Homo sapiens: one gene and its partners. The protein of the gene in region 2 interacts with the protein of the main gene of each other region in a pairwise test. Each region holds a gene or a part of one and is shown on either strand. Other genes may lie near its edges.

Region 1 (7,317 bases), on a different chromosome or scaffold from region 2:
ACTGCGGTCAGGGCAGGACATGGGGCACAGTGGCATGGTTGGTCCTGGTGTGCAGCTGTTTTTTATGGGGTCTTGCTCTGTTGTCCAGGCTGGATTGCAATGGCGCAATCACGGCTCACTGCAGCCTCAACCTGCCAGGCTCAAGCCATCCTCCCACCTCAGCCTCTCGAGTAGCTGGGACCATAGGTGTACATCACAATGCTTTGTAGAGATGGGGTCTTGCTACATTGCCCAGGCTGGTCTTGAACTCCTAGGCCCAAGTGATCCTCCCACCTCAGCCTCCCAAAGTGCTGGGATTGCATGCATTAGCCCCAGTGCCCAGCCTCCTGCATTATTTTAATGCTTCCATTATGTTGATGTACATAGTAGCTAATTCCCCACCAAGGAGCATTTTGGTTGTTTCTGGTTTTTCCCTCTTACCTAAAAGCTGCAACGAGTGTTTTGCACTTTTGTGTCACTGTGGTCTTTGTTCTTATAAGTGGGATTTTTGCCAAGTTGTATTCCAAAAAGTTGTGCAACCAGGTGTATCCGAGGGCATGTGGTGGTGGCTGGGTCTCCCTTTAGCCAGAGAGAAGCTCCTAGGCCTGTGCAGTGTCTGAACCACCCCTCGTGATTATCCCCAGTCTGTTCCAGAAATAATCCAGGATCTTCCCATCTCTGTCTTGAGAACACTGTGTAGAATCACGAATGTCTATGTAGAAAGGAAAGGGAGGGCAGGCCCCTCTGTAGGCTCTCATTGCAGAAGGACTCTGTCCAGCCCAGCCACGTGCCGCCCTCTGCTTCCTCTAGGAGGCAGACAGGCGGATCCTGCAGGCCCTCCTCGAGAAGGAGGACGAGAGCCAGCGCCTCCACCTGGCCAGGCGGGAGCAGGTCATGGCCGATGTGGCCTGGATGAAGCAGGCCATTGAGGAGCAGCTGCAGCTGGAGCGGGCGCGGGAGGCAGAGCTGCAGATGCTGCTGAGGTGAGTGGCAGCTGCTGACTGGGCTGGATGCTCCTGGCCTCAACTCTGATACCTTGAAATGCCCCATGGGTCACCTGTTACTGAAATATCTATTGGCTGGGCGTGGAGGCTCACACCTGTAATCCTAGCACTTTGAGAGGCCGAGGCAGGTGGATCGCTTGAGCCTAGGAATTTGAGATCAGCCTGGGCAACATGGCAAAACTCCAGGCTCTACCAAAAATACACAAATTGGCCAGGCGTGGTTGTTCATACCTGTAGTTCCAACTACTCGGGAGGCTAAGTGGGAGGATCACTTGAGCCCAGGAGGTTGGGGCTCCGATTAGCCATGACTACACCACTGCACTCCAGCCTGGGTGACAGAACGAGACTCTGTCTCAAAAAAAAAAAAAAAAAAAAAAGAAGAAGAAGAGATAGCTGTGTATGTTGTCCATCATTCCTGAGGAGCACATCTTCATAATGGACCTGGCCTCTGGGGGTGTTTCCCTTGTATTATCTGAGGTGGAAATCATTAAGGTTTAGAGTAACGATGTGTTCATCTGAAATCTTAGAGGTTTAGAAGGAAATTATTTTTTTTTTTTTGAGATAGAGTCTTGCTCTGTCACCCAGGCTGGAGTGCAGTGGCATGATCTCGGCTGACTGCAATCTCTGCCTCCTGGGTTCAAGTAATTCTCTGCCTCAGCCTCCCGAGTAGCTGGGATTACAGGCGCCCGCCACCACACCCGGCTACTTTTTGTATTTTTAGTAGAGATGGGGTTTCACCATCTTGGCCAGGCTGGTCTTGAACTCCTGACCTTGTGATCCGCCAGCGTTGGCCTCCCAAAGTGCTGGGATTACAGGCGTGAGCCACTATGCCCAGCCAGAAGGAAGTTATTATAGAGATGTTGAATGCTGCTTACATCTATAAAACTGAGTTTGGGTCCTAAAGACTAAACTAGTAGATTGAAATCATCAAATAATAAGTAGCATACATTGAGCACTTACTGCATGCTGGACACTGTGCCGGGTGCTTTACAGGCCTCATCTTACTGAGTCCTGACATCCAGCCAAGTGGTGGCTTGTGAGACCCGGAGACTTGAAGAGGTCACTCCGTCCAGGGTGAGCTATCAGTGACACAGGCATGCGGTGGCAGGGTTCAGGCACAGGCAGCGCCCTCCTCTCCATGTTCTGATGGTTTCATTCATCTCTGTGTTAAACAGCCACGGTGTAAGTCATCCCAATTCCTTTTTATAAGGAGATGGGGTATTAAAAGGGTAACTTAAAATACTTCCAACAGGGCCAGGCACGGTGGCTCACGCTTGTAATCCCAGCACTTTGGGAGGCCAAAGCAGGTAGATCACTTGAGATCAGGAGTTCAAGACCAGCCTGACCAACATGGTGAAACCCTGTCTCTACTAAAAATACAGTAATTGGCCAGACATGGTGGCACATGCCTGTAATCCCAGCTACTCAGGAGACTGAGGTACTAGAATCGATTGAACCTGGGAGGTGGAGGTTGCAGTGAGCCGAGATCGCACCACTGCACTCTAGCCTGGGCAACAGAGCGAGACCCATCTCAAAAATAAAAAAAATGAAAAACTTCCAACAGTACTTTCCGTGGATGCTGTCCTTAATTGTAATCTTTTCAAAGTGCATGTGGATGTTTATCTGCAGTGTGGTCCTGCAGAAGCCATGTGCCCTGCAGCCCTGTCTGTTCCGTAGCTCGCTTCCTGCCAGGGCGGGGAGGAGCCTGCTGTCATCCCTTTTGTGTTTGCCCAGGGAGGAGGCCAAGGAGATGTGGGAAAAGAGAGAGGCAGAGTGGGCCCGAGAGCGCAGCGCACGGGACAGACTGATGAGCGAGGTAATCCCAGCTGCGGCGATGTGGACCGGCTGTTGGGTCTTGGGCAGGTGTCTGGAAGTCCATGGTCAGTCACCCTGCCAGATGCTCTGGGAACAGAGTCTTCTCTGGTCATTTTAAGTGGGCTTTAAAAATCATTGAAAAAGTAATATGAGCTTAGTAGAAAAGAATTCAGAAGTACAGGAAGTAGAAATGGAAAAAAGTCCCCCAGAGCCCATCCTGTATGCAGCCGTAGCTGCTGCTTCTGTCTGCTCTTCTGTTTCTATGCCTGACATTTTTTCTACATGTATTTCTTACTGTCTTGTGCTATTTGGCTTCAAGCGTTGTGACATGCTGTTACATCTTTATAAACGGCATGTCAGGGGCTGTATCACGGACTGTCCTCTGTCACCCGCTGCCTTTCCATTCCCTCTTATGGGTGTGCTGTGTTGTTCTAATTGGAAGCCATTCTGAGAAACGCTGCAGAGAGCCTCTTGGTGCCTGAGGCTCTTCCCACACGTTTCCCCCCTCGGGGTAGATGACAGCCGTGACCTGGAGGACATAACTGCTTTCCTGGTCAGTGTGTACACTGTGCGTGGAAGATATACCCCAACCGCAGAGAAATCTGGGAGGAGAAGAGAGAGTGTTACCCATGGGCTGAAAGCTGTTGTAAAGTGGTTTCAAATGAGAAACTCTACGTTGTGTCTGGTAGTATGCTGTATTTTGGAATCCACAGGAAATTGGGTCGTGATTGGTGATGTTTTGCTCTTGTAAATACCAAGAATTCTCCAGTGCCTTTTGATTTTCCTCATTTAAATTTCCCTCCTGATGGCGGCCACTTTCTGTTCCCCCCAGCCCTGCAGCCTAACTGTTGAGAGTGTCAGGTGGTTTTCTGCTCCTGACTGTGGCCTGGGCTGGAGTTCAGATGTCACACGGCTCTGGGGCCAGGTCTCAAACACAGCAGGTTCAAAAGGTTAGAGGACCACCCCAGCTCCACCTCTGGTCATCTGTGTGGCTTGTGGCTCTCTTGTTTTTGGAACCCGCTGATAGGAAGGAGACTCACCTTGTTGCTCCAAGGTTTCTCTGGCCCCGGGGAGACAGCTCCATCCCCATCTCCTTTGATTTCTTTGGCACTCAGCTGTCTCTCCATAGTACACAGTCTGGATACATTTTGTGTGTCTTGGGTTGCGAGGGAAACATTTCTTGTATACTGGCAAGCGTGGCCGACATCGTGAGAGCAAATCCTGTCATCTGGCTCTGCCTCTGCGTACCTGGGCCTGAGGCCCAAGGATGAGGCTGGGCCTTGCTGTGGCTGCAGCCTGTCCAAGGCTTGTAGAACCAGGATCTGTTAGGGTCAACCTCAAAGCTGCCCTTTTCTTTCTGCTGAGGTTAGGTTCTGACAGGGAGACAACAGCAAATACAAGAGAAGATTGAGCAGAACCGACGGGCACAAGAGGAATCCCTGAAACACAGGGAGCAACTTATTCGAAATCTTGAGGAGGTGAGAGAGTTGGCTCGTCGCGAGAAAGAGGAGAGTGAAAAGCTGAAATCGGCCAGGAAGCAGGAGCTGGAAGCCCAGGTAGGGCTGAGCCCAAGGGCGGGAGGCACCGGGCCTGCCAGGTTCTCTGCATCATCATGGGACAGGGTTCAGAGCCGCTGGACTGCCTGGCAGGGCTTGCGCACGTTTGAGAGCACGGTGCTCCCGTTTCCATCCCAGCTGCAGTCCTCATCCTCTTGACTGTGGCTTCTTTCCCTCCACATCCTCCATGTCGTGTGGGTGAGGCCGGTACTGCTGTCTGTTCTCTTTACTCTGTCTGCTTCTGCAAGCAGTTGGCTTACCGGGGGCCATAGATCTCTCTTCATTTCAGTCCCTGATACATAAGACAGAACAGTCCTCCAAACACCTGGCCACAGGCCGAGCTTTTCACGAGGTACACGCCACGCATATGTATAGCCTCTCCAGCTTTCCATGAGGTACACGCCACGCATACAGCCTCTCCAGCTTTCTACGAGGTACATGCCATGCATACAGCCTCTCCAGCTTTCTACCAGGTACACACAATGCATACAGCCTCTCCAGCTTTCCACGAGGTACACGCCACGCATACAGCCTCTCCAGCTTTCCACGAGGTAAGCGCCACGCATACAGCCTCTCCAGCTTTCTATGAGGTACACACCATGCATACAGCCTTTCAAGTCCCGCATGCTCCCTTCCGTTCCTTGGCACGTGCATTGCTGTTGCTCAGCTGGATTCTCCAGTCTGGGTAGGGCCGCAGGCTTACCTTCCTCATCAGAGGCAGGGCTCTGCCCTGTGGGCCTTGTCTTGGGGTGGTGACTTTGCTCTTGGCACTCAGGTTGCAGAGCGCCGGCTGCAGGCATGGGAAGCAGACCAGCAGGAGGAGGAGGAAGAGGAGGAGGCCCGGCGGGTCGAGCAGCTCTCAGATGCCCTGCTGCAGCAGGAGGCGGAGACTATGGCTGAGCAGGGCTACCGGCCTAAGGTAGGAAGTCTGCCAGGATATAGGCCAACACCGGCAAGACAGACTCTGCCCGGCCCCTGCTCCCCTGGGCCTGCTCATCGCCCCGCGCCGGGGTCTGCTCTCCGGCCGTCCGGGTTATTCCTTGTTTCTCTTCTCTTGTATTTCTCTCTTCCCTGACCAGCAGGGAGCCCTGACACAGGGGCTGTTCCAGTCCTTGGTTGGGCCTCAAACCTTGAAGTGATTTTGCTCTGGCCTTGCCTACTAAGCTGCATGCCTGTCCACCCTCTTTGGTCAATCTAAGAAGAGCTGTGGCCACAGCTGCTGAGAGGGGTCAGAGCAGTAGATCTAGGCCTCAACTGTTGAGACAGTGAAGCCCGATGAACAAGAGACCAGTCCTCCTCCTCACCTCCCCTCCCTCCCTCCTGTGGGTGTCCTCTTCCTCCCCTCCCTCCCGTGTGTGTATCTGTTTCTCTGCCTCTCAGTGTCTTTGTTCCCGGACCTGTCTGCACAGCACCATGGGGAGCACAGAGAAGCAAATGCTGCCTTCCCTGCCCTGAGGAAGCTGATGACTGAAGCACCTCCACTGCTGGCTTGTCCCCTCTGCCCTCCTTTACCTAGGGCCACCCTGGCCACCCGGTGCCTAGAGTGCATTCCCCAGGACACATGCTGCAGAATGAGGGCTGGCTCCCTTGTGGTCAGATGACACTGGGAAACTGAGTGAAACATAATTAGAGCAGGTGCTGCGTTTGCCATAGGCCACTCGCCCTCAAACACTGACTGTCACAGTCACAGGGAACAGCATTTCCTAAACCCACTTGGCCGTGGATCAGTGAGAGTGTCAGGGTCAGGGTTTCACAGATCATATGTGAAAGTGTTTCTTAGGGCTAGTACTCAAAACCAAAAAGATATCAAGTGCCTCATTTATGGCTTAGGGTCAGATTTTTTCAGCTGGAAATGAAACAGCCATTTATATTGTTCTTTTAGCTTGTAGTTAAAACAAGGTTAATTCCTCATGCTGCAGATACTGCTGATCTGATCACTCTTATGTTTTCTTTCTTTTCTCAGCCTTACGGACATCCAAAAATTGCTTGGAACTGACTTCATGGGTACCATAAGTACAGAGAACAAGGGATGCTGAGGCTTCTGATCCCAGCCGCCAGGCAGTTTTACAGGGCTCTGTTAACAGTAAGTGCCCGGGGCACTGTCAGATGGCTCAGCAGTGCCTGCTCAGGTTCATCATTGAAACATCCCAGTGTTTGGCCAGACATTAAGGTGTCGTGAGAGTCCCTTTCATGCCTTTCTTACCCAAGCAAGGGTCTTTGATGGGCACGTGTTTACAGCGCTGCTGCATAGTCTTGTAATATATTAACAGTCACATCAACTGAAGGTCAATACTAAGAGCCACAGGTTGTACCTGTGATGGGGCGTGTGGTTTCCTGTTGTCTCACCTTTAATTGTCAACCTCCAGTGTTGACTCTAGAAATATGAGGAAAGCTTTTCAGTTTTTAAAATTGCCATTTAAATTTAGTCTATTAAAAACAAACCTAGAGGTCTTGGTGCAGTTGATTTCAGAGTTTATTAATTTAGTGGTCCCAAAAGTATTACATCTTTTATATTCTGGAAGAAAAGAACTGTGAACAAATTAGAACCCCGGAACACTCTGACGTCCATGGACGCATTCCAGAAAAGTGGCAAGAGATGAGTCTTTCCTCCTCCAGGAAGCATTTTGGTAGAATTTCCATAGAGCATTGTCTGTGAGTGACTGATCCCAACATGTATGTTACTAAGCCCCAAAACGAACTTCAAACTGGGTGTGGTGGCACGTGCCTTTAGTCCCAGCTACCCGGGAGGCTGCGGCAAGAGGATTGCTTGAGCCCAGGAGTTCGAGTCCAACCTGGGCAAAAGAGTGAGACCCCATCTCTAAAACCAAAAAGGTACCTTAGAAGGTCACCTGGTTGGCTAACCTTTTAAAGGCAGGGGCGTGACACGTAGGACACATTGGGAATGTCTTGGCTACTACATGTAGCCTTCTGGGATATATGTGCCCAGAGGGAGAAGCACTGAG
Region 2 (7,573 bases):
GGAGGGATATGTCACCAAGGAGGAGGTATAAGTTCCCTCTCCGGTGGGAAGTTCAAGAGTGTGGGCAGTCTTCTTTTTTAAGCTAGGTGGTGGATATATGGGTATTCACTGTATTGTTCTCTTACCCCATTCTGTATATCTTAAATATTGCATGTTTTAGGCCGGGTGTGGTGGCCCATGCCTGTAATCCCAGCACTTTGGGAGGCCAAGGCAGGTGGATCATCTGAGGACAGGAGTTCGAGACCAGCCTGGCTAACACAGTGAAACCCCATCTCTACCAAAAATACAAAAATTAGCCAGGCGTGGTGGCAGGCGCCTGTAATCCCAGCTACTCGGGAGGCGGTTCTCATTCTCAAAAAAGTTTGTGTTAAAAAATAAAATGCTGCATCTAATTGCAAGTGCTTTTTTACCAGTATGTGATTGGCATAACAGCAACACATCGAAGTGTCAAAAGTGTAACTCTCCTGCCAAGTGAATTACCTCAATTTCCTGTAACTGCTCCTGATTGGTTGTATACATCTGCTGAACAGAGTCCTCCAACTCTGTGTTCCGATCCAGTAATGTCTTCCCAAGCTCAGCAGCAAGTTGAAGATCTAGCACAACAAATGAATCTTAGAATAATACAAATGATCTCACATCAACAATTTATATAACCCAGTCCTTCAAAAAAGAACATGTAGTTTAAGTCACATCCCAATGGAAGGTGGAGTGGCACAGAAGGAAACCCGAGTTCTACTTAAAATTCAGTTAAACTGACGCCTCCAGCAGGTAATGTATTCTCTTATGTACCCATACTTGTAAGAAGTGAAAAATGGTCATCTACTTTATGGAGATGCAGTTATTTGTTCAGGAATGATCATTCCGCAGTGTTACTTCTAAAATCCTATTTGCTAGTACAATGAATGTATTCATATCCTGACAGTCTACTTTTTTGAATGGACCCTTGAGCCAAGGTATAGGTGGAGCTTTCAAAAATCTTTAAAGTTCCCATGAATTTGCCTGCTGTGAATACAACTGTTAAAGTTTATTGTCATATATCCTGGACTCCTAAGGGGACTAAAATTTATTAAGTCAAGAAAAGGAAAAATACATCAGCATTAAGAACACTGCCCCAGGTCACTCTACTTCTCTTCGTGTCCTTCTGTAAGATGAGCAACTAGAAAAGCAAAACAGAAATGTGGTTTTTGAGGTAATTACATGTCAGTAGCTCATACTTCCATTTAGCACAGAACCATATTTTATTTTAAACCTCATTTTTCAACTCTCTCTATTCTTAGGTATAATGCCCATAAAACAGGATTTGTTTATATTATACTCAACTCCCAGAAATGAAAATTTAGTTAACAATATAAGAAAGGACACTAGTTGTAACATACGTCATTGAAATACTTCTTTGCATAGTAAATCTTATGGAGCAGTCCTTTGATACAGTGGGAAATGCACTGCACTCTGGGCAGGTAAGTCTCAGGCCCAGTTCTATCATTTACCAGAACACTTTCAATATGGTGACTTTAAGGCCCCTATAGTTAGTATTCTTGTTTAGAGAGATGACTGTCTTATCAATATAAGATTGTGAAAATCAAATGAAATAATACATAAAGGAGTACTTTACAAACTAAGTTGCAATACGCACGCAAAGTACTATTAATAGTCATTGATTCACAAATGAATGTTTTTGTTGCCAGGCACTATGCTAAGCATTAGCTATAGAACAGTGAATAAAATGAAGTCCTGCTTTGCTGACATTCCCAGATTAGTGGAGGAAGCCAGACAAATGAGTAACTAAACTCACATACTGTGATAAACAGTATTCATGCATGCATGCATATACTCAATAATATCAGACACTATTCTAGGCACTGGGATGGTGCCCAGGAGCCATAAGGAACTCACATTAAAAAAATATCCCTGCCCTCATGGAGCTTATATTCTACTGGGAGAAACAGCACAATAAAACTTGATAGCGATAAATGCTAAAGAGAAAAAAATAAAGCAAGGAAGAAGTACAGGAGGAGTGTGGATGTGGGAGGCTGAAATTTAAGAACATGTGACCAGGGCCACATTAGAATCAATGTGTGAAGGAACAGAATAAGTGACCCATGTGTATCCATCAGGGAAACAGCACTCCAGGCAGAGGCAAGGCAAGTGCAAAGCACCTGGGAGGAAGCATGACTGAGTCATTAAGGAGGCTGAGGAGGGTGGAGCAGAATGTATTGGGCAGGGAGGGGAGGGGGAAGACTCAAATCAGAGGGGCTCCAAGATGGCCAGTTTGCGGAGGGCCTAACTAAAGAGGTCAAGAGTTTGGCCTTTACTCCAAATGAAGGAATCCAATGGAGGTTTAACAGGATCACTCCGGCTGCTGTTATACAGGGTGAATGGGACAAAGGTGGGAGCAGAGTGACAGAAAGATACTGCAATCGTCTGGGTGAGAGATGATGGTGGCTTGGACCAGGGTGGCAGAGATGAAGATGGGAGAGGAGGGGCAGAATTCTGACATGTTTTGAAAGTAAAGCTAAAGGATTTGTTGACCAATTCAATATAAAGTCTAAAAGATAAAGCGGGGGAGAAAAACCTGGATTTGGTGATAATGAACAAAGGGCTTTCTTTTTCTGTCTCTTTATTAGGCACGGTCTCGCTCTGTTGCCATGCTGGAGTGCAGTGGTGCACTCATGGCTGACTGTAGCCTTGGATTCCTGGGCTCAAGTGATCTTCCTGCCTCAGCCTGCCAAACAGCTGGGACTACAGGCATGCACTACCAAACCCAGCTTACTTACTTACTGATTTATTGTAGAGACAGGGTCTTACAATGCTGCCCAGGATGATCTCAAACTTCTGGCCTCAACACATCCTCCCACATCAGCCTCCCAAAATGTTGGGATTACAGGCATGAGCCACTGTGCCCAGCCTAGGGCCCAATTTAGAAAGGGAGGTCATAAGGAAGGTCTGACAAGACCTTTTAGCTGAAGCTTGAAGGATGAAGAACTTGCCATGAATTTGGCATATTCTACAACCTGACAAGCAGCCAGTATGATAGAAGCATGAGGGATCAGATCATATAGGATTTTATAGCCCATGGTAGGTAAAGTTTAAATTTTATTCTAGGTATGATGGAAAGTAGCCTCAGTTATTGTCATAAAAGTATTATGAAAAAAATTTATCATAAAAACAAGGAAACTCACTACATAATGATTTTTAAACTTAATTTTTAGAGGTTGACAAATAAGGCTTAATGGCTATCCACCACTACTCATAGTAAAACTTAGCATTGAGTAAATGGTAACAACAGCATTAGTTGTTGTAATGTCCACTCAAGTGCATAATTAGTATTCTACTTGGTTAGTTTTCACTCTGGAAAAAGCAGCAAAACCTACCACACCCAACTCCAGATCATTTAAAAACATTTTACACCCATTTAAAATAAAACAGTATACTGTTGGTAGATAGGTGCTAAAATACATTCTCTTGTGATTTCAAAACTAACAATGTCTATTAGTCATTACATTCATTAAGACTTTAGAGGCCAGGTGCAGTGGGTCATGCCTATAATCCCAGCATTTTGGGAGGGTGAACCAGATGGACTGCTTGAGCTCAGAAGTTCGAGACCAGCCAGGGCAACATGGTGAAATTACATCTCTACCAAAAATACAGTGAGGCCCTGTCTCAAAAATAAAAAAATAAAAAATAAAGACTTCCATTAAATCTATGAAATAACTTGTATTTACAAAACACAGAACTTTTACAAATAGCTCAAAGCATTTAAGAGACATTAGTCTTTTTCTTGTCATTATTTATTTATTTTTTTTGAGATGGAGTCTCTCACTCTTGTCACCCAGGCTGGAGGGCAGTGGTGCGATCTCGGCTCACTGCAACCTCTGCCTCCTGGATTCAAGTGATTCTCCTGCCTCAGCCTCCTGAGTAGCTGGGATTACAGGCACCCACCACCACACCTGGCTAATTTTTGTATTGTTAGTAGAGATGGGGTTTCACTATGCTGGCCAGGCTGGTCTCGAAATCCTGACCTCAAGTGATCCGCCCACCGCGGCCTCCCCAAGTGCTGGGGATTATAGGCATGAGCCACTGCCCCCAGCCTACTTTTTGTTTTCTAGAGACATTAGTCTTTATATCTTTAAAGGTATTTAGTCCAGTTTCTCAGATGAGACAGCCTGAAGCACAAAACTGTTAATTGACCTAATCAAGCTCCAAGGTGAGTCACAGATCAAACAGAAACTCTTAGGTCAACAGGTTCTCACTCTCACTCTCATCACGATTCTTTGTTATCTTCATCTGCAGAGTTTTAAGGCAATTGAAAGAGAGGTCCGCAGGCTTCTTTAAGGTAGAGAATACAAATGTTCCCCTTGTTGAGGTACTTAATTTCTTCTACTTGTTTTCACAGATTGCAATGAGAAATTAGAGTTCAACTATTTGGGTTTTTATTGCCTGCTCTGCTAGTGAAAGCACATACAACCCCAGGCAAGTTAATACCCTGTTTTCACCAAATGAAAAAGGAACTATGTATGGCTCAACATGTTCCAGAAAAAATGATTTTGTACTCACAGAGTGTGTAATGTGTATACATAGACCCATATGGAAGCTACCACACTGTATTAAAGACAAAGTATAAAAACATTACCTAGGTATTACTTAAGTCTTTCCTTCTTAAATGTGTGAAGTGGTAATTCCTCACTGGGAAGGCTCAGATTCACCAAAGATGCTCTTAACCAGCAATCAAAGCCTGAGCCAAGGACCGGGTGTGGTGGCTCACACCTGTAATCTCAGCACTTTGGGACGCCAAGGCAGGAGGACTGTTTGAGGCCAAGAGTTCGAGACCAGCATGGGCAACATAGCAAGACCTTGTCTCTTAGCAGGAAAAAAAAAAAAAAGAAAAAAAACAAAACCCAACTGGGCTGAAACCTCTCCCAGAATCCAGACTGTCTTGAGACTATCACCACTTTCATTCAGTTATGGAACTACCTGTGCTACTTAAGAGTAGCCAGGAACCTCTTCCCTGCTCCTGCAGAAAGAGATACCAAGGACAGCACTCTTTAGTAGATAGCAAACAAAAAAGAATTTGAGACTTGTCCTTATCTCAAACCTTATTTCCAGTAAAACAAAGCACCAGCCTGGCTCAGAAACCTGAAGTCTCGATCTCCTAAATATTTATAGGCTGTTAAGGATAGAATTTTAACAAGTCCCAACTACAAGAAAGCTCCTGTGAAGTCACACTGTATAACAGGATATTACTTCATCTGTTAGCTTAAAGACACCGGACTTTGTCTTTAAAAAAAGTTCATTTCCTGTTGAGTAGCAGCTGGCTTCCATAACCAAAAGAGGCCAAAAGCTGGCAGTAAGCCCAAGAAAGTTTTCTAAATAATTAGTGGAGGGAATAGAATATTGAATGTCCCTTATAGTTTTAATTAAGGCACAAAAGAAAAGGAAATAATATAGTTTCGAAGCCTTATACACCTGTTCATCTCTACAGGATTACAAAATGAATTTTCATTAAGAGGGTCTTCTCTAAATCCTATTGAACTGGCCTGGTTTAGGCAACTACTAAAAATACTGTAGATTTATTGCAGGCTTGAGAATTTCAACATATCAATACCTTCATATGTTGAATATTCTTTCACTAATGAGTCTTTGCAGGTAATAATATATTTTTAATGGTGTAAACTGTTAGCTTTAAACAGATACTCAGCTCTATGCTTTAGGCAAAAAATTAGTACTGGCAGCTGTAGTCTGTAGGAGTAATTCACTAACAGTAAGGCTGAAAGTTTTTCCTATTACAAAGTCAAATGCGTCATTTAGTGATGCTTCTGTTTAACTCCTGTTGCCAATGTTACTATAATTGGGAAAGCAGAAAACCTGAATATAAATATCAAGAAAAATGATGTTGTCAGTTTTAATAACCCTCCAAACAGTGATTCAGCAAAATAGTTGTACACAAGGAGGATGTACTCATCCTGCAATTTTAGGATTCCTTTAAACTAAGAGTTCATTTACTGATCCACATAACAGAAACCTGAATCCTTATTCTAAGTTTGCACAGCTCACCAAATGACAATAGCAGCTGGTTTAAAAGAAAATCCAGTCTCTGAAGTCTTTCCACCTTGTTCTCAGGGGCATGTTTCAAAGCAAGCACCATCATTACCTGCACTGAAGGCTCCTGCTGTCCCAGAAAAGATCTTACCCACAGAGATTATTGTCAGTATTCCTACTGAGCCAACTCAGCTCTCTGACAAAAGACAGTCTCTTCATCAAAGAGTTTTGTAACAGCAAAGGGTTTTCTCCTCCTGCCTACACAAAAGCTTTACATGTTTCTAACAAGGTATGAATAGTAGACCAGAGTTTACTGAGGTTAGAAATTTCCAGCAATTTCAATTTAAAAACGGATACCCTAGGAAACTTTGATACAAAGATTCAATCTATTCAGAGCATGGCTTACTACTGCTAAAGGAAAACATTCTATAGTTGTAAGATACTGAGAACAGGATCATTAAAAGTTGTTTTCCAGCCAGGTGCGGTGGTTCACGCCTGTAATCCCAGCACTTTGGGAGGCCGAGGCGGGTAAATCACGAGGTCAGGAGATTGAGACCATCCTGGCTAACATGGGGAAACCCCGTCTCTACTAAAAATACAAAAATTAGCTGGGTGTGGTGGCACGTGTCTGTAATCCCAGCTACTTGGGAGGCTGAGGCAGGAAAATGGCTTGAACGCGGGAGGCGGAGATTGCAGTGAGCCAAGAGCGTGCCACTGCACTCCAGCCTGGGGACAGAGCGAGACTCCACCTCAAAAAAAAAAAAAAAGTTTTAAGCAGTTCTCTCCAAATAAGCCTTGCTCAGTAATAATAATGAGGATGTTAAAAAACGGACAGATGCCTGCACATAAAATCCCACTAGACTTGCTGAATAATCTGTTTAACAGGACAGACCTGCTCCCAAACTTAATTCAGCAGCAAGTGTCTACTGAGGGCCTACAATGTACGAGGCGCTGTAGTGGGCACATCCCATGAGGCGGCACCTCCAGGCTTCTCTAGTGAACAGATTCCTGGAACATTCACTCTATGGGAGTAGGAATCCTACCTATCCACTCATGTGGGGAGGTGCTGTGGCCCCAGGGCCCAGGCGAATACCTGGCAAAGAGCAGATAATACATTTTTGAGAAATGAACAAGTTTTAAAATCTGTTAAAAGTTTAGGAGTTAACATATAACTTAGCAAAACTGGGGAAAGGATACCCTTTTATTCACACTGTAGCCTTTATTCTTTGACAGGCCATATTCACAAGTTACAATTGTTGGAATTTCACATCTTCTACTCGTACTCCATATAGTTGGTTATGACACAGAGGGTTAAGTCAAAGTCCACTGTGATAACGTAACAGCCCTTTGAAAAACACAGAAATGCAACTGGCAGTAAAGAGGTTCAGATATGTGTGTGTGTGTGTGTGTGTGTGTGTGTGTGTGTGTTTTGAGAGGGAGTTTCGTTCTTGTCATCCAGGCTGGAGTGCAATAGCACGATCTCAGCTCACTGCAACTCCGCCTCCCAGTTTCAAGCAATTCTCCTGCCTCAGCCTCC
Region 3 (7,365 bases), on a different chromosome or scaffold from region 2:
CTGTGGGTCTGAGTTTTTCTCCCCAGCAGCAATGGGAGCTCCCCAACTGCAAAGTGCCAGCCAGCCTGAGAGACTAGTGTTACAGCAAAGAACCCAGGAGCTGAGGTCCTGGCACATGCCACACATGTGGACACCAACCCAGGGTCCAGCCCCAGGACGAGGCCAATTCGCAATGACGCCCCTTTCTGTGGTGCTGGCTCTGCACAAGGATGCAGGATACAGGAAACCAGGGTGGGAGCAGGGGCCTCCCTTCCGGTCCCTCCCAGTGACCTAGGGGGGTCCCTGCAGCTGATCCTCCCAGCTCTGAGCTCAGCAGGGTCAGGGGTCCCGGCCACTAGAGCAGCACATACTCAGCAGACACGCTGAATGACGAGCCACAGCTGCCTCATGGGCATGACTTGCACCTCATGTCTAGGAGACCCTGGTGGGCAGGAGATGGGGCTGCCATCCCACAGCTGTCCCACAGCTGGGGACCCAGGGAGCCACTGGCCCCACCACGGTGGTGTCTGGAGAAGGGCTCAGACTGCCAGGAAGTCGCACCCCAGCAGAAGTGGTAGTGAATTGGGAGGGCACTCAAGGAAGGGCTGTGCAGCCCCAAGACCAGCAGCAAGGATGGGCTACAGTGGCCCCCTTAAGTCTCCCTCTTCCAGTTTCGCCTTAAGAGAGGCCCTCAGGACCTTGGAGGAACCCCTCTCCAACGTGGAAGTGTGGGTCCACATAGGGCTGCAGCTGTGGCCAGTGCAGGCATCTCTGGCCCCACTGTATTCTTGCTTCATGTTGGAGAACACTGCACCAGCAGATGGTCTCATTTTGGTTTCTGTGGGACCCACTTTGGCTGCAAAGAGCCACACTGCCAGGTCACACCTGCCCAGGGCAGCCCACACTGGGGACCCACCAGGCCATGGTGTGAAGTCCCGGCCAGCCTGGCCCCACATGGCACAGCATAGCCAGTTCTCCTCCAGGGCTCCCTGCTGGGCCAACCACAGCTCTGTGGATCCTGCTGCCTGAGTCGACCTCTCCTCTCCCGTCCTCCCTGCCTTCCTGGTGCCGACCCCCAGTGTGCATCCTGTACCTCGACCTGTCTCAGCATCTGTGCCTGAGACACCGGCCTGTGACAAGATCATCATCATCTGTGTCACTCCCCAAGCATGCTGCGCACTGGACACACAGGCCCTGACTCAACTTGTCCTGTCTGACTTCAGTGGTCCTACAGGATCTATCAGAGATCACTTGGCCATGGGAGAAATGTCTTCTTGGCTAGAAGTCACAGCAGGAGGGGACACTTTGGGGGCGCCTAGGAAAGGGGAACTAGGATCAAAAAAGAGATCAGGACCTGGGCACTCAGCTCTAGAGATGGCATCAGGGCAGCCAAGGCACTGGGGACACCCCACACCCACTGTGCCAGCCTAGGGCAGGGAGCCCGAGGAAGCCACAGGCTCTGCCCTGCTCAGTGCTGGACTCAGTGCCTGGCCCAGGCTGAGAAGGAGATAAACTGCAGCCTTGGGGGTGTGGGGAAGGGGCACCACACTGGGATCTCAGAAATGCCCAAAACCTGTGTCAAAATAGGAGACTGCCGCTGTGAGACCCTGAGGAGTCTTCTGGTGATCATGGAAGAACAAATGTTAAGCTAGAACTGAAGGAACCTCATCAGGGGAGAGGCAGCCATCCTGCCGTCCCCACATCTGGTCTTTGCCATTTCTGTGTCCTGTGGTGGTCAGCAGCAAGGTCTCTGAGCCGAAAGGAGGCACTCACTTTGGAGGAGTGCAGGGTCCCCAGGTCCCCACACTTTGTCTTGTCCTGACTGAGAAAGAAACAGACTGCCCTGACCTCTCTGACTTGGCCAGCGAGGTTGCCCTTAGGCTCAAACCCAAGCCAGGGTTTGAACATTCCCAGACACTTGTAAGATGTTTAGGTTGTTAACATAATGTTCAGGTTTCAAAACATTGAAAGAAACTAGCCCCAGCCCTGAACCCAGATCCCCCCCGGCTTCAGGCATGACCAGTGAACACGCCCTTCTCTCACTGGTCACCTGAGGATGCCGCACTCTGTCAACAGGTTCCCCTAATACATGCTCTGATCTGATCGCCTTGGCATTTAGTGATTCTTTCCCTGGAATTCTCCACTGGCCCCATCGCAGGGAACTCCCAAGTGGGAAACTCCCCTACCACCACTTTTGGGGCAACTTCAGCTAAGGGTTCAGCTGGGACAAAACAGGGAGCCACTCGGGAACCTGGGACAGGACCAGAGAGAAAACCCGAGGGACAGAGTGGGTAAGGAAAACTGCTGAGGAAGGGCCCAAAGGGCACTCTGGAAAGAAGTGGCACTGGAGGGCTGGGGTGGGGGTGGTCCTGGCCAGGGAGTCTTACCTTGTCCCACAAAGACTGCAGCTCTTCCTGCCCTCCTAAGTCCCAGAACATGAGCCGAGCCTTTCCCACATCCACAGTGCCGACTGGGGAGAGGAGGAAACAGGCAAGGCTCATGACCTTGGTCCTCGACACACCCAGTCCCAGCTCTCCCAGGGGATGGGGCAAACCATGCTGGTGCCACTCAAATGAGACTTGAGAGGGGCCCGACAGGGCTGTGGCCACGGGCCAGCTGGACTGTGAATATCACGGCATCCTCAAGGCCCCAAACCCACAGCCTGCTATTGAGACCCTTACTGTTTAGGCCCACGGTGGTGGTGATTTTGGATAGACTCATCCCCTTGTAGTTCTTGTTAAATCGGGTTTTCGACTGCTCCAGGAAGGTCTGAGGAGAGAGGCAGAGGCGAAACACATCAAGGAGGGGCTATACTGGCTTCCAAATATCCTTACTCAGGTCTGTTCTTTAAAAGACAGAAACAGAAACAGAGCAACACTCTGCTCTTCAGGAGGCTGGTGGTGACTATCCTGCCGTCTCAGGTGAAATTTGGCTTCCGTCTGGGTAGTGAACGTGCAGCTGACAGCACAAAACCGAAGGGGGCGCCGCCAGGCCGTGGGAAAGGTGCGCGCAAGGGCGTGGGCACTCACCGTCTTCCCAGCATTGTCCAGGCCCAGGATCAGGATGCAGTACTCGTCCTTCTGAAACATGTACTTGTACAAGCCCGACAGCAGCGTGTACATCCTGCCCTGGGCACCCCAACATAGGTCAGTGTGCAGCCAGAAAGCACCTCCCCTCCCCCGGGCTTCTCCACGGTGGTCAGTGGCGCCCCACGTCCAGCCGACCGCTCAGGACGAGAGCCTGGGGGCCATTCCCGACTCCTCGTCCCTCTCCCACCCCGTCCCTCTGTAACTTCTCCCAGGTCAGCCGCCACTGTGTCCTGCTCACAGCAATGACTGCGACCTCTCCGCATACACATCGGTTCCGGCCCCTCCCCTGCTCGCGGGACTACCCAGCCGGGTGTTCACAGTGAGCTCAGCCGCGCTCCCGCCCTCCCCCGAGGCTTCGCTCCCACGCTTCACGCGCGCGGAACGGGGAACACACTCGCTGCAGCCCCGCCTGGGCCACGGCACCCTCGAGCGCCAGCCCCGCGCCCCACCCGGGAGCAGCGAGCCACCGGCGCGCTCCCCAGGAGCCCCTGCAGGCGCCGGGTAGGGACGCCCCATCACCCCATTTCTTAAAACGGGGACGGCCCTGGGGGGAGCGGACTACAGGGCGGGTGAGCAGCGGCGCGGCTGCTCCTGGAGTGCACCTGGAGGCGGCGCGCGGCTGGCAGGGAACGACTGCGAAGGAAGAACCTGGGTCGCGGCCCCCGGCTACGTCCGCCCCAAGCCGCCGCCGCCAGGTCTGAGGCTCCCCGACAAGCAGCCAAAGCTGGCTCCTGTCACACCCGCGTCCCACCTCGAGTCCTGGGCCGCCCCTCGGGCCTCGCGCCTCACCGCACAGCCTGCGGCCTACCTGCGTCCGCCGCGCCCTCGGAGCCGCTGCTGCTGACCCCCGCTGACCTCCGCTGACCCCGCGCTAACCCCGCGCGGCGCCTGACGGGACGCGGGCCGGCCTCAGGGAATGAGCTGAACCGCGTCCCAGCGGCCTCCGCGCTCCGCTTCCCGGCTGCCCCCGCGCGCCAAGCACTTCCGGAAGCGGCGGCGCTCGGGAGGAAGTGCCGATCGGCTGCTGGGGCGAAAAGGGGGCGCCGGGCCGCTCTAGCCGGTGAGGCCGGCGGGCTCTCTGTGGCTGCGGCTGGGAAACCGCGCGGAGGAGGTGCCCGGCCGGGGACCAGGTGGCCGCGGTTTGCGGGGACGCGGCCCTGGCCAGACAGAAGAGACGCCGGGCGGGGGGGCGCGGCCGGCCTGGAAGGCGGCGGGCGCGGCGGGTGGGCTCGGCGGAGGGTGAGGCGGCGGGGCGCCCCGCGGGGAAGGGGCTCCGGAGTGACGCGGGACCCGGCTAGCGGCGAGCCCACGGCGGCTCGGAAGGGAAGCGCGGAGCCTGAGCGGGGGTACCCGGGCTGCGACCTCTGCGCTGGGAGCTGTGCCTCTGAGCCGGTGTCTCCCCGAGGGAAAGGGGACGTGCCCGTGCCCGTGCCCGCCCTCAGGCTGTGGGGTCGGTCCCGAGACGCGGGGCTCAGCTGGCTTCTCTTCTTGCAGCCCTGGTCCAGCGCCTCCCTCTCTCAGCATGGACGAGGAGAGCCTGGAGTCGGCCTTGCAGACCTACCGTGCGCAGCTGCAGCAGGTGGAGCTGGCCTTGGGCGCCGGCCTGGATTCGTCTGAGCAGGCTGACCTGCGCCAGCTGCAGGGGGACCTGAAGGAGCTCATCGAGCTCACCGAGGCCAGCCTGGTGTCTGTCAGGAAGAGCAGCTTGTTGGCCGCGCTGGACGAAGAGCGCCCGGGCCGCCAGGAAGATGCTGAGTACCAGGCTTTCCGGGAGGCCATCACTGAGGCGGTGGAGGCACCAGCAGCGGCCCGTGGGTCCGGATCAGAGACCGTTCCTAAAGCAGAGGCGGGGCCAGAATCTGCGGCAGGTGGGCAGGAGGAGGAAGAGGGAGAGGACGAGGAAGAGCTGAGTGGGACAAAGGTGAGCGCGCCCTACTACAGCTCCTGGGGCACTCTGGAGTATCACAACGCCATGGTGGTGGGAACGGAAGAGGCGGAGGATGGCTCGGCGGGTGTCCGTGTGCTTTACCTGTACCCCACTCACAAGTCTCTGAAGCCGTGCCCGTTCTTCCTGGAGGGAAAGTGCCGCTTTAAGGAGAACTGCAGGTAAAGCCCTTTGTTGTCAGATGCCAACCTTAGGGGCGTAAGGGGCACGCACACAGGGTCGGGTCAGGATCGGCCCTCCCTTTGCTTTGCAGTTTTGTCTCAGCTTCCTGGGGCAGGCGTGCTTTGACAGCTGTGTCTGTGTTCAGGCGTCTACGTCTTCCTTCTGGGGTGAATCAAGAAGCATGGAAGGAGGCCAGGCGCGGTGGCTCACGCCTGTAATCCCAGCACTTTAGGAAGCCGAGGCGGGCAGATCACCTGAGGTCAGGAGTTCAAGACCACGCTGGTCAACATGGTGAAACCCCATCTCCTTAAAAACACAAAAATGAACCGGTCGTGGTGGCGCGCACCTGTGGTCCTGGCTACTCAGGAGGCTGAGGCAGGAGAATTGGTTGAACCCAGGAGGCCGAGTTTGCAGTGAGTGGAGATGCAGCCACTGTACTGCAGCCCGAGCAGCAGTGCAAGGCTTATGTGGAAGAGAGTAGGTCTCCAGCCTATCGTCAGTTTTTTTTTGGTGGTTGTTTTAATTTTTTTTGAGACAGGGTCTTACTTTGTCAACCAGGCTGGAGTGCAGTGGCATAGTCCTGGCTCACTGCAGCCTGGACCTCCTGGGCTCAACCGATCCTCCTGCCTCAGCCCCCCTAGGAGCTGGGCTACAGACTCACGCTACTACACCCAGCTAATTTTTATATTACTATAATTTTTTATCTTTTTTTTGAGATGGAGTCTTGTTCTGTTGCCCAGGCTGGAGTGCAGTGGCGTGATCTCGGCTCACTGCAAGCTCCGCCTCCCGGGTTCACGCCATTCTCCTGCCTCAGCCTCCCGAGTAGCTGGGACTACAGGCGCCCGCCACCATGTCTGGCTAATTTTCTGTATTTTTAGTAGAGACGGGGTTTCACCATGTTAGCCAGGATGGTCTCAATCTCCTGACCTCGTGATCCGCCCACCTTGGCCTCCCAAAGTGCTGGGATGACAAGCGTGAGCCACCGCGCCTGGCCTTTTTTTTTTGGAGACAGAGTTTCACTCTCCTCACCCAGGCTGGAGTGTAGTGGCGCAATCTCAGCTTACCGCAACCTCTGTCTCCCGGGTTGAAGTAATTCTCTACCTCAGCGTCCAGAGTAGCTGGCATTACAGGCGCCCGCCACCACACTGGGCTAATTTTTTGTATTTTTAGTAGAGTCGGAGATTCACCATCTTGGCCAGGCTGGTCTTGAACTCCTGACCTCGTGATCCACCCACCTTGGCCTCCCAAAGTGCTGGGATCACAGGCGTGAGCCACTGCGCCTGGCCCTGTTGTTAGTTTTATTCTCTAGAGTTCAACTTTTAAATTTTACTTTCATGGAGATTTTCAAACATACCCCAAATTAGAGAGTTTAGCATAATCACCGCCCACGGTCCATCATCCAATGTCGTCATTTATTAATATTTTCCCAGTCTCATTTTGTCTGTTCTCCCTGCCCTATTTTTTTCTTTCCTGGGCCATTTTAAAGCAAATTCCAGAAGTTACTGGTTTTTTCCAATTATGAATACTTCATAGTTGCATCTCTAATCTAACTGATTAGGAAATTACTTAAAAAGTAACTTTTTGGAAGTCCAAGTCCGATGTGAGGACAAAAAAGAGTAACTTCTGTGTCATAATAGGTAACACATTTAATGGTAATACCTCTTCCATATTCAAATATGAACAATTATTACTGTAATGTCTCTATTTCCCTAAGCGCATAGCTTTATTTTTCCTCCTTTTTACTTTTCTCTTAGAAGAAATATTTACCAAGCCTTCTAGTAGGTAATTTTCTTTTTTAGCCAATAGTTCAGGCTGACCGTGTAACCATCCCTAGTTCTAGTTCTAGTTCTTTGAATGTCTTCCTTTTTTTTTTTTTTTTGAAACAGCGTCTTGCTGCTCTGTCACCCAGGCTGGAGTGCAGTGGCACAATCTCGGCTCACTGCAATCTCCGCCTCCCTGGCCCAAGCCATCCTCCCACCTCAGCCTCCCTAATAGCTGATACTACAAGTGTGCACTGCCACGCCCAGCTAATTTTTGTATTTTTTGTAGAGACGGGATTTCACCATATTACCCAGGTCTCGAATTCCTGATCCCTTTGATGAGAGATCTGACACATCCCTGTGGTGCTCCCTCTGGGCCAGGCACTGCTCCAAGGGTTTCATATACTTTCATTCATCTGTGCAACAGCCC

What was found. The genes of interacting proteins can lie anywhere in the genome.
Region 1: the proteins of CDR2 (region 2) and TCHP interact in binary tests that used the Homo sapiens proteins (3 or more experiments, as listed by UniProt).
Region 3: the proteins of CDR2 (region 2) and ZGPAT interact in binary tests that used the Homo sapiens proteins (3 or more experiments, as listed by UniProt).

Annotation. Positions count from the first base shown.
Region 1 is NC_000012.12:109,910,274-109,917,590, forward strand, and holds part of TCHP (trichoplein keratin filament-binding protein), read left to right. Parts: intron 1-789; coding exon 790-962; intron 963-2,717; coding exon 2,718-2,799; intron 2,800-4,168; coding exon 4,169-4,354; intron 4,355-5,129; coding exon 5,130-5,273; intron 5,274-6,317; coding exon 6,318-6,350; 3' UTR 6,351-7,317. UniProt on the Homo sapiens protein: Tumor suppressor which has the ability to inhibit cell growth and be pro-apoptotic during cell stress. Inhibits cell growth in bladder and prostate cancer cells by a down-regulation of HSPB1 by inhibiting its phosphorylation.
Region 2 is NC_000016.10:22,364,422-22,371,994, forward strand, and holds part of CDR2 (cerebellar degeneration-related protein 2), read right to left. Parts: intron 594-7,573; coding exon 481-593; intron 1-480.
Region 3 is NC_000020.11:63,703,991-63,711,355, forward strand, and holds the start of ZGPAT (zinc finger CCCH-type with G patch domain-containing protein), read left to right. Parts: upstream 1-4,048; 5' UTR 4,049-4,128; exon of another isoform or gene 4,129-4,198; intron 4,199-4,562; 5' UTR 4,563-4,590; coding exon 4,591-5,174; intron 5,175-7,365. Other genes in the region: ARFRP1 (ADP-ribosylation factor-related protein 1), read right to left, coding at 2,367-2,449, 2,661-2,748, 3,009-3,101. UniProt on the Homo sapiens protein: Transcription repressor that specifically binds the 5'-GGAG[GA]A[GA]A-3' consensus sequence. Represses transcription by recruiting the chromatin multiprotein complex NuRD to target promoters.